Linked DNA regions of Homo sapiens. The protein of the gene in region 1 purifies or fractionates together with the protein of each later gene. This does not show direct contact. Each region holds a gene or a part of one and is shown on either strand. Other genes may lie near its edges.

Region 1 (4,830 bases):
CCAGAGTGAGGGCAGAGATATCACCAATCTTGAGCCCAGAGTTTTACCTTTCCAATCACAGCTTTGCTTGGATTACACAAGATTGCTTCTAAGGAATAAATAGATGCCTTTATAGTATGTTACCTCAGTGACTTGAGCCACATTGTCCTGATTAAACTAATAGGATGATGGATTCTTAAGAGTAGTATTTTTCAGCTTGGAAAAAATGTTGCCTTGTGATTGACAAAAAAATTGCTTGCCTTTTTAAAATGTAATTCAAGCCATCAAAACAATTTTAAATATTATAACCAAAAACATGTCAAGACAATAAATAGTAACTGCAGAATATTTGTTCAAACTGCATATTTCTCTGTCACCTGCTTCTTTCCCTCCCAGGAGAAAATTACAACTTTGGGGTGATTTTGTCATTTTTCTATCCCTAGTCATCAGCCCTTGACCCTGACTCAGATTGCATGTGGTTTTGTGGGTACCTCTTCACAGTCAACAATGAGTGGTTGGGTCTGTGGGAATAAAGATGCATCACCAATATAGGGACATATCCATGACAACTGTAAAAGCCACCCATCACTTTATTGTCCTACTTTTTTATTAACTTTGAACAATGAAAAGCCTTGAAAGAATGGTTGAGAACAGCAAATTGCTGCTTTCAAATTAATTCAGCCTAAAAATCTATTGATGTTATTTTATTGCGTCGTAAATAAGGAGTAGGTAAAACATTTTGTGCTTTAATAAGTGAGGCACAGCTTAAAAGTTTTAAACAGCAATATAAAAATACAGTACAGTGCATAAATAAATAATATATCTCCACTTCTAGTCGAATTTTGAAACCCTCAGTGTAAATTATAACTTCACTTGAATGGGAGGCACAAGGTACATGTGCTAATGTTCTGTAAATCCAGAAAATCATATCACATAAGATTCAATAAGGAATTAAAGAAATCAAATTAATCACACTTGTGTTAACTAAATAAGAATAGGTCAGATACCTGTTTCCAAGTTATGCTGGGTATATAAAAAGCTTCTCTGCAATCATAGAAAAGTTTGAAAAGGTTCATTGATGAAAGCACCTTGCATTTCAGATGAACTTCAATATTTTGGGGCTTTTTTATATAAGAGCTTTAACAAGTATATATGCACCTGTATATTTGAATAGATATTGATGAAAGGGGCCATACAGGCCTCAGAGTAGTGCACCATCAGAAATATTTTAGGGGATACAGTGTCTTTTAAATTTGAATATTCAAGTATTTAAGTTCTACAAAGTTATATGATACCTCCTGGATGTTTCCTAGAAGTTCTCATATTCATAGTTAGAAACAGGCTTTTTTAAAAAGGAAATGCCGAGTTTCTCAAATCAAATTTCACATAACTTAGAGCTCTATTTCTGTTTTTTTTTTTAATTTTTTTTTTGTTGTTTGTTTTTTGTTGTTTGTTTTTAACATAGCAGGACTTCTTTGGTGATATTTTTTAATATTGGAGAAAACCTTAAAGAGCCTTAAGATTGCTAACTAGAAATTCAAGAGAGGCTTCACATACGTTTTTACGTTGCTGCTCACTTTTCAGGGGGAAGGTTTGTTGGTCTGATAGCTCAAATCTGTATTTCAGAAAATAAAAATTACATTCTTTTCAGCCTACCTCCATATGCATTTTGTAGGGTGGGGTAGAGTTAGAGAATGCTTTTTCTAGCACAAGATTTAGATTAGCTCTGTGTGTACTCACATTGGAGCCACTAGGAATCCTGAGAAAGAGGAGTGGACATACTCAGAGGAGTATAGGCCATTTGACTCGGCATTGGGAAGCTGGAGCCACACCTGGTCATTTTCTGTGAGATCGATGATGGCACTCCCTGAAGCCTGATCCAGGTAGCCTTTGGTGTATTCATCATAGGTGTACATTACAGGGGTGCCATTCTTATACAGGCCTACCCAAACATGAGTCCCTTTCACATGCACGTGGTATGAAAAATAGTATATTCCTGGTATCTGACAAGTAAAGATTCCAGTCCTTGGGTCATAATGCTGTTGCCTGTTATACAAAATTTTATCAAATGGTATGGGAGTTCCTATTGCTGGGTAAGCTTTGGAGAGAATAACAGTAAAAGCAGACACAGGCATTCCTGTTACCCCCTGGTTGGCACTAACAAGAGGGGTCCCAGAAAGACTGGGCCTTTGGCCTGCCTTTATAAAACCCTCAGGCATGACTGCTTGACCTGGTGGGCCTGGAGGCCCAGGGGGCCCTGGAAGACCAGGCTCTCCAGAGTGGCCTCTTGGACCTGGAGGCCCTGGTGGCCCGGTGGGTCCATTGAGGCCCTTAGTTGCTATGCCAGCTGGGCCAGGAGGACCGGGACTTCCTGGATCCCCTTTAGACCCAGGGAATCCTGGAATGCCTGGTGGCCCAATAGGGCCTCTAGTACCTGGTATTCCAGGGGCACCTCTTGGGCCAGCCTCTCCATTGTGTCCGGGCATTCCCTTTGCTCCTGCTGGGCCCACAGGGCCTGGGAGACCAGGAGGTCCTCCAACTCCAGGATCACCTTTTGGACCTGGTAACCCTGGGTTACCCTTAGGACCATCGAGACCTGGTTTTCCTGGGTACCCTGGTTTTCCATCTGACCCAGGGGAACCCCTTTCACCCTTAGCCCCAGGGTATCCTGCAGGCCCAGCTGGCCCTGTCTCACCTTTAGGGCCTGGGAGACCATGGCTACCCGGGATGCCTTTTGGTCCTTGGGGTCCCATATTCCCAGGGGGTCCAGTCAGACCTGGCTTCCCAGGAAGACCTGCTGGCCCTTGTTCCCCTTTGGCACCTGGACCCCCAGGAAGGCCAGCAGGTCCTCTTTCTCCCTTCAGGCCTGGCAAGCCTGGTTTCCCAAAGCCAGGAGGCCCTGGGGGCCCAGCTATTCCTGGAGCCCCAGGGAGACCTTTTGTTCCTGGAATCCCTGGCTGGCCTGGGGCTCCAGCAGCTCCTGGCTTTCCAATGCCTTCTGGCCCTCGTTCCCCAGGAGGGCCTTGGGGACCTGGTGGGCCAATTGGTCCCATTTCTCCCGGAAAACCTCTATCACCTTTGATGCCTGGCTGTCCTGGAACCCCATTTTCACCTCTTTTTCCCACTCCAGGAGGGCCAGATGGTCCTGTGGGACCCTGAGGGCCTGGAAGACCCCTCTCACCTGGACGACCAGGAGCACCATATCCCATTTCCCCTTTCTGTCCATTCATACCAGGGACTCCTGGTGCACCCTTTTCTCCAGGAAAGCCCCTGGGTCCTGGGGCTCCTGTGGGTCCCTGTTGTCCAGGTTTTCCTGGCACAGAAATTCCAGCCGGTCCAGGGATTCCAGGTGGTCCTGGTGGGCCCCGGGGTCCTGGTAGGCCAGCTGGTCCAACATCTCCTTTTGGTCCATATGGTCCTCTCTCTCCTGGTTTTCCTGGGAGTCCTGGCACACCTGGTTTCCCTACAGCTGATGGTCCCGGTGGTCCTGGCAACCCTGGCTCTCCTTGGAGTCCAGGACTTCCGTAGCCTGGTTTTCCTGGTGGTCCAGAAGGACCTGGGTGCCCTCGAGGTCCAGCAGGGCCTGGTGGACCAGGAGTACCTTGCTCTCCTCTTACTGCTATACCTAAAAGACACACCCAACACACCCACCCATAGAAGGGGATGGTTAGTGACATTAAAGAGAATCATTGCCTTTCAAACTATGAATTGGGACACGATATTTCAGCATCATTTATTCCATGTAGACAGAACAGTCTGAAATGGTTTTAGATTATATGTTTTATACTGTTTTAAAAAATTCTGCTGGAGAAGATGGTTTCACAAAACCATGGCTACCATAATACTTTTATCCCATGACAGTGATTCATGAAAATGAGCTAGGATTGAAGAATTCCTCTAGAATAAGTGCAGTGGAGGTAAATTTAGTACATTTATTTTGGGAAAATCATGTACAGAAAAGGCAGAAAAAGACAGTGCAGAATAAGTGAGAAAATGTTTAAGAACTATAAAAATTTTCCCTCCCAAAGCTACCCTGTCAGACATAAAAGAGAAACAGAATTAATTCTGATTTACATCTGCCATGCCTCTGCTGAACACAGGTTAGATTTTGGTTGATTTACTTTTACCTCAGAATATACTCTGAGCTCTTATACTCTCCATTATTGACTTAAAATTGAAACAAAGAACTAGAGAATTAGACATAATAGGTGAGGTACATAAAATAGTATTAAAGTTCTTACCTAAATACAAATATATAGTGTTTGATTTCATAGAGCTGTGAGTTCACTTGACCTGATAAACTAAACTTAAACTAAAAATCATAGTGCCTGTGATGTGAAAAATGCGGCTGGGCCACAAGTATGGGGAAAGCACAGGGTACAGATGTTTCTGAGATTTGGAAAACATTTGGTGTATATAAATGCAGAGCGAATCATTAAAATAGATATGCCGAAATAGGAAAATAATTGTTTCAGATTTAGATTTTTTTTTACTAATTAGAGTTATATTTCAATTTGAAAACATTGATTAATATAAATACATAGAGCTTTCCCCATGGATTTTCAGAAAATGACATCAGGAAAAAGACTGTGAGAAAAATTTATGTAAAAGATTTCCGTATATTAAATATTTCATTGATTGTAGTGTACATACATGATTATATTATGTATAAGTGGATATTGATATATTGCAAATAGAGGAATAAATAAGGAATTTTTTAATGGGTTGGAGGAATAAAATAGTGGATTTTTTAAAATGCCAACTATGTTAGATTGAGCTTTGCTTTAGAATCTGATTATAAGGGTCATGTTCACACTAAAAATAATTGTCTTAGTCTGATTGGAAATCTGT
Region 2 (7,833 bases), on another chromosome or scaffold:
CTCAAAAAATAAATAAAATAAAATAAAATTTTGCCTATAGGATAATTTCTAAAATTCTGAACCGGCTGGGACCTCCTGTCAGTCCTCATGGAGGGTTGGCTTCCCCAGTGGTGGGGCATAGGTGTGCCTGTGCGTGTGCATAGGGTGCGGGCCATGATAAGGTGCACTGTTGCGCTCTCGCCTGTGGGCGCGGATTTCCCGACCAAGCACCCACTGGTGCCCAGGCGTGGGGGGTCGTCTTCTGCCAGAACAGGGAGCACTTCCTCCCCTCCGGGCTCATGGCGGTCGCTTCGGGCCTTCAGCCCCCCTCTTCTAGAGAGTCCCACAGGGGCTGGTTATTAACTCATTAATTATTCATCATTATTCTAATCACTATTTACCGTCCCCAGGGCCGCAGCGCCCGCACTGAAGAATACAGAGTGGGAGCTGCGCAGTCCCCTCCCCCTCTGAAACCCGCACGAATTAGTTACACACTGGCCCCCTCCACCTCCTCCCAGATACCCTGCATGGACCAAGCACACCTACTCGATGTCATATACAGATAGACACCGCTCTACTCTCACATCGCACTCCGCACTCACACACACTCCCTGACACACATACATATTCTTTCACTCCATGAGGACGCACACTCACTCCCTTTCCCCGGGTTCCTGGGGCAGCCCGGCTGGGATGAGATCCCAAAGCAGGTCTCGGGGCAGGTAGATGCTGCCGCGGTACCAGGCTCCTGCAGGCCTGAAGCTCCTGGGTCGCCACCACCCCCTTCATGCTGGACATCCAGAGGTCACCACTCAGCCCCAACCTCCCTCTGCAGCCTGTGCAGCTCTGGCACCTTCTCCCACCTACCCCACACCTGCGGCCTCTAGTTCCCACTATGTGTGAAATTTTGGTGCTAGAGCTTAGTCCTTGGGGCTATTCCCCGAAAACAGAGGCAACAGTGACTCCAACTGCCCACAAGGGCAGGGAACTGTGGAACCTGGATACTGAGAGATTGCTAGGGAGGGTGTGGGGCCTACAAGACCAGGCCAGGGCCCAAGGCTATTCTACCTGTCCCTTGCCTCTTTCCTCCCCCAAATCCATTCATTCCAGCCACCTGGCTGGCCCTTGAGCTGCCAAGCCACAGACTCTGCTGAGGGCAAGGCCGTTCTAGGCCCCCAGCCCTGGGGTGAGCAACAGAACAGCTGATCGGCAGGTGAAGTGAGCAGGCAAATGTTTTCTTCCTTTTATACCTTTTCCTCAAACATCCAACCCGAATGCCCTCAACATGAGAACAGCTGCTGACTTCCTATTGCCTGAGACATGGATTCCATTCTAATTCGAAGGAGCCTAGACTCCAGTTAGCTGGTCCAATGCAAGGCTGAGAGACCCAAAGGCCAGGGGGGCTGCCGCAGAAGAAAGGATAGCCCAAGACAGGACGAGAAAAGAAGCGAGTTGGCAGGGCGAGACACCAAAGACATCTGGTGTTGCCCATAGTTGCAATGTGAGGTCACAGCTGCAGAGACACTCAGGTTTAAGTCCTGAGTTCTAATTCTAACACCATTCCTACACTCCGTGAGGCCCTAGGCAGAAGGTTTTCCTTCTCTGGCCCCCAATTTCCTCTGTGGGTAAATGAAGTCATCTATCGTTCTTGGCAGCCTCGCGTTCCTGGATTCAGTGACGCTGTTTCGGGGAATAATCTCAGGTTGTGGGATGAGTGCAGGGAGATCTAGAGAGCGACCAGTCTGAGCTGGGTTGGGGAGAGGGGCATCTCACCTGTCCGTTCTTCATGAGGTCGGCCCACATGCTGGTGCCGTCGCCGCCGCGCATGAGCACGTGGTAAGCGAAGAAGTAGACGCCTGGCATGGGGCAAGTAAACTTGCCGCTGGCTGCCTCGTAGGCGTTGCCCACGTTGGTCACCACGTCGTCGAAGCGCAGCACCTCGTAACCCTCGTGGGGCCGCCGCAGGCCCGCGTAGAAAGCAATGCGAGGCACGTAGCCGGCAGCGGGCGCCACCCCGCCCGGACCTGGACCGGGAGGGCCCGGGGGGCCTGGCCTGCCGGGTTCTCCTGGGGGCCCTCTTGGACCTGGTGGTCCAGGGGGCCCCCGCAGGCCTGCTTTCCCGCGCCGGCCCACCTCTCCCTTGGCGCCTGGCGGGAAGGGGGGCACGGAAGCAGGCGCGCCGTCGGGACCAGGGCCACGGGGCCCATGCGGGTCGCACACCATGCGGCAGCGACCCAGCATCTCGTAGTGCGCTGGCCCGCGGGAGCTGTGCACCAGCAGCGGGATGGCCACCAGCAGCAGCAGCACCATGGCCACTCCGACGGCCGCGCCCGCCACCCTCTTGCGGCGGCTCAGCCGCGACGCTGCCAGGGCCAGCAAATCTTCCTCACTCTTGGGCGCAATGGCTGCCGGGGCCGGGGCTCTCCGCGGGCCAGGAGGCGGTGACCCGCCTTGGGCCTGGGTCTGCACTCCCCCGACGGCTGCCCCCCGCTCCCCTTACCCTGCCTCTGCGGGCTCCAGCCGCGGCGGTGCCGCTCCCCAAGCCGTCCGTCAAGGGGAGGCCCCTCGTGGGTTACGTCAGGGGCAGCTCCCGACGGTCCAGAGCCAGTGGTCCTCTAGTACCCTCCCGTTCAGTCCTAACGATCCTGGGCACCTGAGATCCGCGGCTTCTCGGACGGCTGGTTTCTTAGGGATCTGAGATGCCTGCTCTCCAGACTGCTGCTCTCTCAGGGATGGCGCGGTGCCTGGGTCCCAGACTGCCCAGATAGACCACTCCCTGATGGAGAGGGGACTGCTCCCCGCGCTCCGGACGTCCCGGGCTCTGAGCTGCGGGTGCTGCTCACCGGGCGCGATCTCCTAGTAGGTTTTGCGCTCTGCCTCTTGGCAAGCACCGACTCACCTTGCTACCCCTGCCGCGGCCCCAGTCCCTGCTAGAGCCCTGGCCCGCGCCTCTCTCCTGCGGGCGCGGTCCCTCTCCGCCTCCCTAACCTTCCTCCCCTCCCTCCCGGGCGCGGGTGGTATGAGGCGCCGCGCGGCGGGAGCCACTATAAGCGGCCAGAGGCGGAGCGACCCCTGGTGCCCAGAGTGGGAAGTGCGGGGGCGGGGCAGGCAGCGGCCCCCACCCACGTCCTCCCCGCCTCCCCTCCACTCCCCCACTGCCCCTAGGTTCCTTCCCGGCTCTGAGCGGGTTCTTCAGGGTTTCGCGGCCCCCGCTGTATCTTTACTTTTACCCTTTACCCGGAGTTTGGCATTCTCAGAGGCCAGAGGAAACCCAAAACAGCGATGGGATAAAGAGGGGTCAAGATACAAACACGCAGAGAAGACAGGGGTAGATTCCCGAGCTAAAATGAGGGGGAGGGACCTCACAAACAAACAGAAAACAAAATAAGAAGGGCTAGAAAAGATAGAAATTCACCACCCCACGCACCTCAGCGCCCGTGACCGAATAACATGGTAAAGGATTCAACTGATACTAGTTGGCCTGAACTGGAAAAGGCAAATCTCTAGCCAACCCTACCCCCACCCCTCAGTATTGGGGCGCGGAGCGGAGTGTGTGTGTGTGTGTGTGTGTGTGTGTGTGTGTGTGTGTTTGTGTGGAGAGAGAGAGAGAGAGAGAGAGAGAGAGAAAATAAGAGAACAGATCAGCCCGGGGGAGCAAGCAAGAAACCGACAAGAAAGCAGAGAAGGAGCGACAGAAATCAAAGAGAAGGAAAGCTAGATAGAGATGCAGAGACAGAGACAAAGCTTCGAAAAGAGACGGACTGACAGCCCCAGAGGGGGAGAGGGAGAGACAGAGACAGAGGAAGAGAGACAGAGCCGGGACAGGTTGACAGATCGAGAGAGAAATGTAAATGGCGCGCTGCAGAGAGACACCCAGGTCCGTGTTTGGACTCCAATGTGACATATCAACTGTGGGGAAGATGCGGGGGCAGGGCGGCTCTGCCAGCAGTGCTAGGCTCTGGGCCTGTGCATTGTGACAGTGTGCTCCAAAGTGTGGAGGTGGCCATGGGATCCTGGCCCTGTGTGTCCCTGGGTGAGTGCGATTGTGGATTGTGTGTTGTCTTTGTGTATGTATATGTGAGGGCTGTTTGAAGGGAGGTATTTGTATTTGTCTTCCTCCTAGTCCCTCAATTTGGAGCCCACAAATGCCATTTTTCCTACCTTGGGACTGAGAATGAAGGACTCTACTGGACAGAGAGGAAGTCAGAAGACAGCTGTCTTCTCATTTGCCCTGCCCAGCTCAGCCCAATGCCACCCCTGCCCTGGTCCCAGACTTATCCAGTCCCAGGAGTCTCTGCCCCTTCCTCCTTCTTCAAGAGTTTGTTGTTAGATGAAACCCAGAGAAGTTGGATCCCACATAATGGGTATTTGGGTGGGGGTTGAAGTTGGCCATGCAAATTAATGTAAGTAAAATGCAGATTAGGTGCTAGGCACCCTCCTGTAAGAGGGGACTGTATCTGTCTTTCCGAGCGGCCAAGACATTGCTAGACACAGGCATTGCTAGATCAGAGTCCAGAGAAAAAGCTACTGGCTGCATCCTCTCTTAGGGCCTGGGCCTTCTGGGGAAAATGTCTTGCTCACAGGGACCCCAGAGGCTAGGAAAACAGGTTCTAGGACTGGTAAAAAGTGGGGGCATTTGGAGACCCTGGAGGTGAGCAGCTGCAAAGGCCTCTTAGAGACCAGGATAAGCCAGGACTATCATGTATGGGAGAACATTGTGTAAGATGGAGGGCACAGGGCACACCAGGGCATGATTATTGGATGGAGAGTGATTTCCTCCTCTCTTGTTTTCTGTACTCCTTCCTTGCACCCCCGACCCCCGCCTCATAATGATGCTGGGAGAGAGAGGTTCCTAAGGCTGGGCCTGTGTTGGGGGTTGGGGGAGGCCCCTACATGTCTGCAAGGAGTGGGAGAGAAAGGATTGGCAGTCAGTGGGGGAGGGGCCTCCTCCTCCAACCATAAATACAAATTTTATTCAAGGTCTTTGTCGCCATTTGTCTTCCTCGGGGGGCTGAGGGCCGTGTCAGCCCTCTGCATGTCTAATTCCGGATCTGCTCCCCCAGGCTGGATGATGGATGGATCAGAGAGCAGGCCCAGGCTCACACCAGCCTCCCCTGCCTGATCCTCAGGCCCCATCCACCCCAGGTCCTGACTCCTCTCCCTCCCTTTTCCCTCCCTCCACTCACCAGAGACCCCCTCTGCCCAGCCACACTCCTCACTCCACTCATTCTACTCACCAAGGTCCCCTTTTTAAGTCCCTCACCTCAGCCCCTTTCAGGTCCCAGTCCTCTTCTCTCTAGAGCTTCCCCTCTCCTCCCATCCCCAGCCCAGGCTGTGAGATGTGGTGACCAGCAGGGCTGCAGGCAGCAGCGGATCTGTGTGGTCGGGGGAGCCGGCTTGGCTCACGGGGAGCTGAGGGGCCAGCTCCATGAATTTATTCATGTTCTGTTGCTCTTTTCCCACACTCTGGAATGAAGCTGCCAGCTCACCAGGTCCTTATTGCTTCCCCTGCAGCTGCCACATTCTGCCAAGAAGGGACCTGGGTGGGGCCAAGGCCAGCCTGTGCACCTTGGGCCAGAAGCCAAGTGTCTGGGCTCGAGGCAATGCTGGGGCCCAGGCCAGGGTCTGGGACAATTTTCCCAGAACTCCTCTGGCAGCCAAACTGGGAAGCCCCAGGGAGGTGGTATGGTTGGGAATGGGAAGTAGGTAGAGAAGGGTGTGCTGCAGGACAAAGAAGGGGCAGTGGAAGTGGGGGGCAGAGTTGGCAGGGGGAGCGGAGAGGAGAGGAAGCCTTTAACAGTTTCCTAGGCTCCCCCACTTAAAGGTTAATGCAGCCTTCAGACAGACCAGTCTGTCCTTGACTCTGCATTAGCCTTGACCCTAACCCCTATTTATATACTCGACTCCTCTTCAATCCTAAAATGAATTTTAACTCCATAAACTGACCCTAAATGGAATGCCTCCCTCACCTGTCCTGGAACCCAGGGGGATCCCCAGAATCCCCCCCAGGGCTATAGCTAGGTGTGTGTCAGAGTTCTGAGGACCAGACTTTGGATTAGCATGTGATTAGCATATGATTTGCATGTGATATGTGCCTTCTACTCTGTGGAAGTTTTCATGTTAAAATTTTATGAAGTCTAGTGGAAAGGTCCTGGCTCCTTGAAAGTTCTCTCTTTTTGTTCCTTCTCTCACACTTACTGTCACTGACCCAGACCCCCTCAAGGGAAGAAAGGGGGTGAAGAGGTGAGCAATAGAGGGCCCTTGGGAGGGAAGGCTCCAGCAGCATGATATGCCTGCATCACTTGAACGTGCCTCAGTTTCCTCATCAGTAAGAGAAGAGAAACCTCCTCGCTGCCTGACATTTTATCAAGATCTAAGGAAACACTTTTTTTTTTTTCCTTGCACTCTCTCCTTCCTCCCCTTCAGGGCCCGTCACAGTGTGGTTCTCCCTACTCATTCCCACACTCTGGCTTTCAACTCCCACATTGAAGATCACATGGATCTGGAAGCAGCCTGGGTTGCCTGGTAGCAGTCCTCTAGTATGAAGACAAGGGAATCCACGTGAGAGGACAGGGGACGGCATGGAAAGGGAAACAACATTATTGAGTCCTTATTGTATTTTAGGGCTTTAACATGCAACTTCTCGTTGCATCCTCACAGCACCCTTTAGAGTTAGATCTATTGTCCCCATTTTAAAGATAAAAAAACTGGGGCCCAGAAAGGGGAAATGGCTTGTCCATTATCACCCTGTAAGGGATAGTCCTGGAATTAGAGTTATGACCTCCTGGCTTCCTTCTCAGTTCCCTAGAGGAGACAAATGGCACCCAAGGCAGTGGAAGAGTGAGAGAGGCAGGCCAGGAGTGGGCAGTGAGATTTGAATGGCTTCCGGGAGCCTTTTGTATGTGAGGCCAAAAGGGTTGGGTCTTGGCTCCGTGTATCCCCCAACCCCCACCCTGACACTGTTAAGCATGATGCCCAACAGGTGCTCAACTGTTGGCTAAAGGATGGCCAAAGTTAGTTTCAGAGAACAACCGTCCAGATGGAGGAAGAGAGGGCAGAGAAAAAGGAAGGCAAAGGAAAACGAAGCGAGTCAAGGAAAATTTGCTTAAGGGACAAAAGGGAAGCCTGAAGCCGGCTGTTCTCCGACTGCAGCTGGGAAAACCGTCCCAGCCCAAGAACCTGCTCATGGTTTGCCTCCTTGCAGAGACTACCCTCCTGCCTCTGCCATCACGGCCAGGCCCAGGGCTCCCACTCATCAGCCAGTGCCTCTGGCACCAAAACTCAGTGCAACCTTAAGTTCAAAGTATCGCACCAGGGTCCACAGGGCTGAAGACAAGCTCCTGGCTTCTCAGAGAGTGGGTAAAGACTGCTTCCAAGGTGTCTGCCAGGTCAGAGCTGTTGCTGACTTACTTCGGCAGCCCTCCACCCCTGGCCAGGTGCTGCTCCTAGCCTTTGACTCCTCCACCTCCCTTTGTGCCCCCCTCTGCCTCCACCGCTTGCCAGCTCCAGCCTCCAGTTAATGAAATGTGGGGATCGGCTGCACAGAGAGCTGTCAGACCCCTCATTTCTCCTCTGGGATATTGACTCCGGGTCTGGGAGACCCACAGGTGAAAGGAGGCGGGTGGGGTGCGGGAAGTTGAGGTAGGGGCGCATACTGATGAGAGCCCCGAGACCAGGAGGTAGTGCTAAGCTCCAAGTCTCGAGGGCTCGGCTAAGCGAGGAAGGCCCTAGGATGCTCTTTCTGCTTGGGGTCCCCAGCTTTTCTCTGACGAGCAGGACACTTAACGAGCCCCAACCCACCGCACCCGGACCTGGACCCCGAACTAGCACCCCAGGCGGGCTGGACTTCAGTGA

Evidence for each region. Proteins that work in one complex are often made in the same cells at the same time.
Region 2: the proteins of COL10A1 (region 1) and C1QL4 purify together in Homo sapiens (co-immunoprecipitation; 3 studies listed by BioGRID and IntAct, with this or other methods). This does not show direct contact.

The regions. Positions count from the first base shown.
Region 1 is NC_000006.12:116,118,358-116,123,187, forward strand, and holds the end of COL10A1 (collagen alpha-1(X) chain precursor), read right to left. Parts: intron 3,605-4,830; coding exon 1,716-3,604; 3' UTR 552-1,715; downstream 1-551.
Region 2 is NC_000012.12:49,334,189-49,342,021, forward strand, and holds the start of C1QL4 (complement C1q-like protein 4 precursor), read right to left. Parts: upstream 3,001-7,833; 5' UTR 2,290-3,000; coding exon 1,753-2,289; intron 1-1,752. UniProt on the Homo sapiens protein: May regulate the number of excitatory synapses that are formed on hippocampus neurons. Has no effect on inhibitory synapses. May inhibit adipocyte differentiation at an early stage of the process.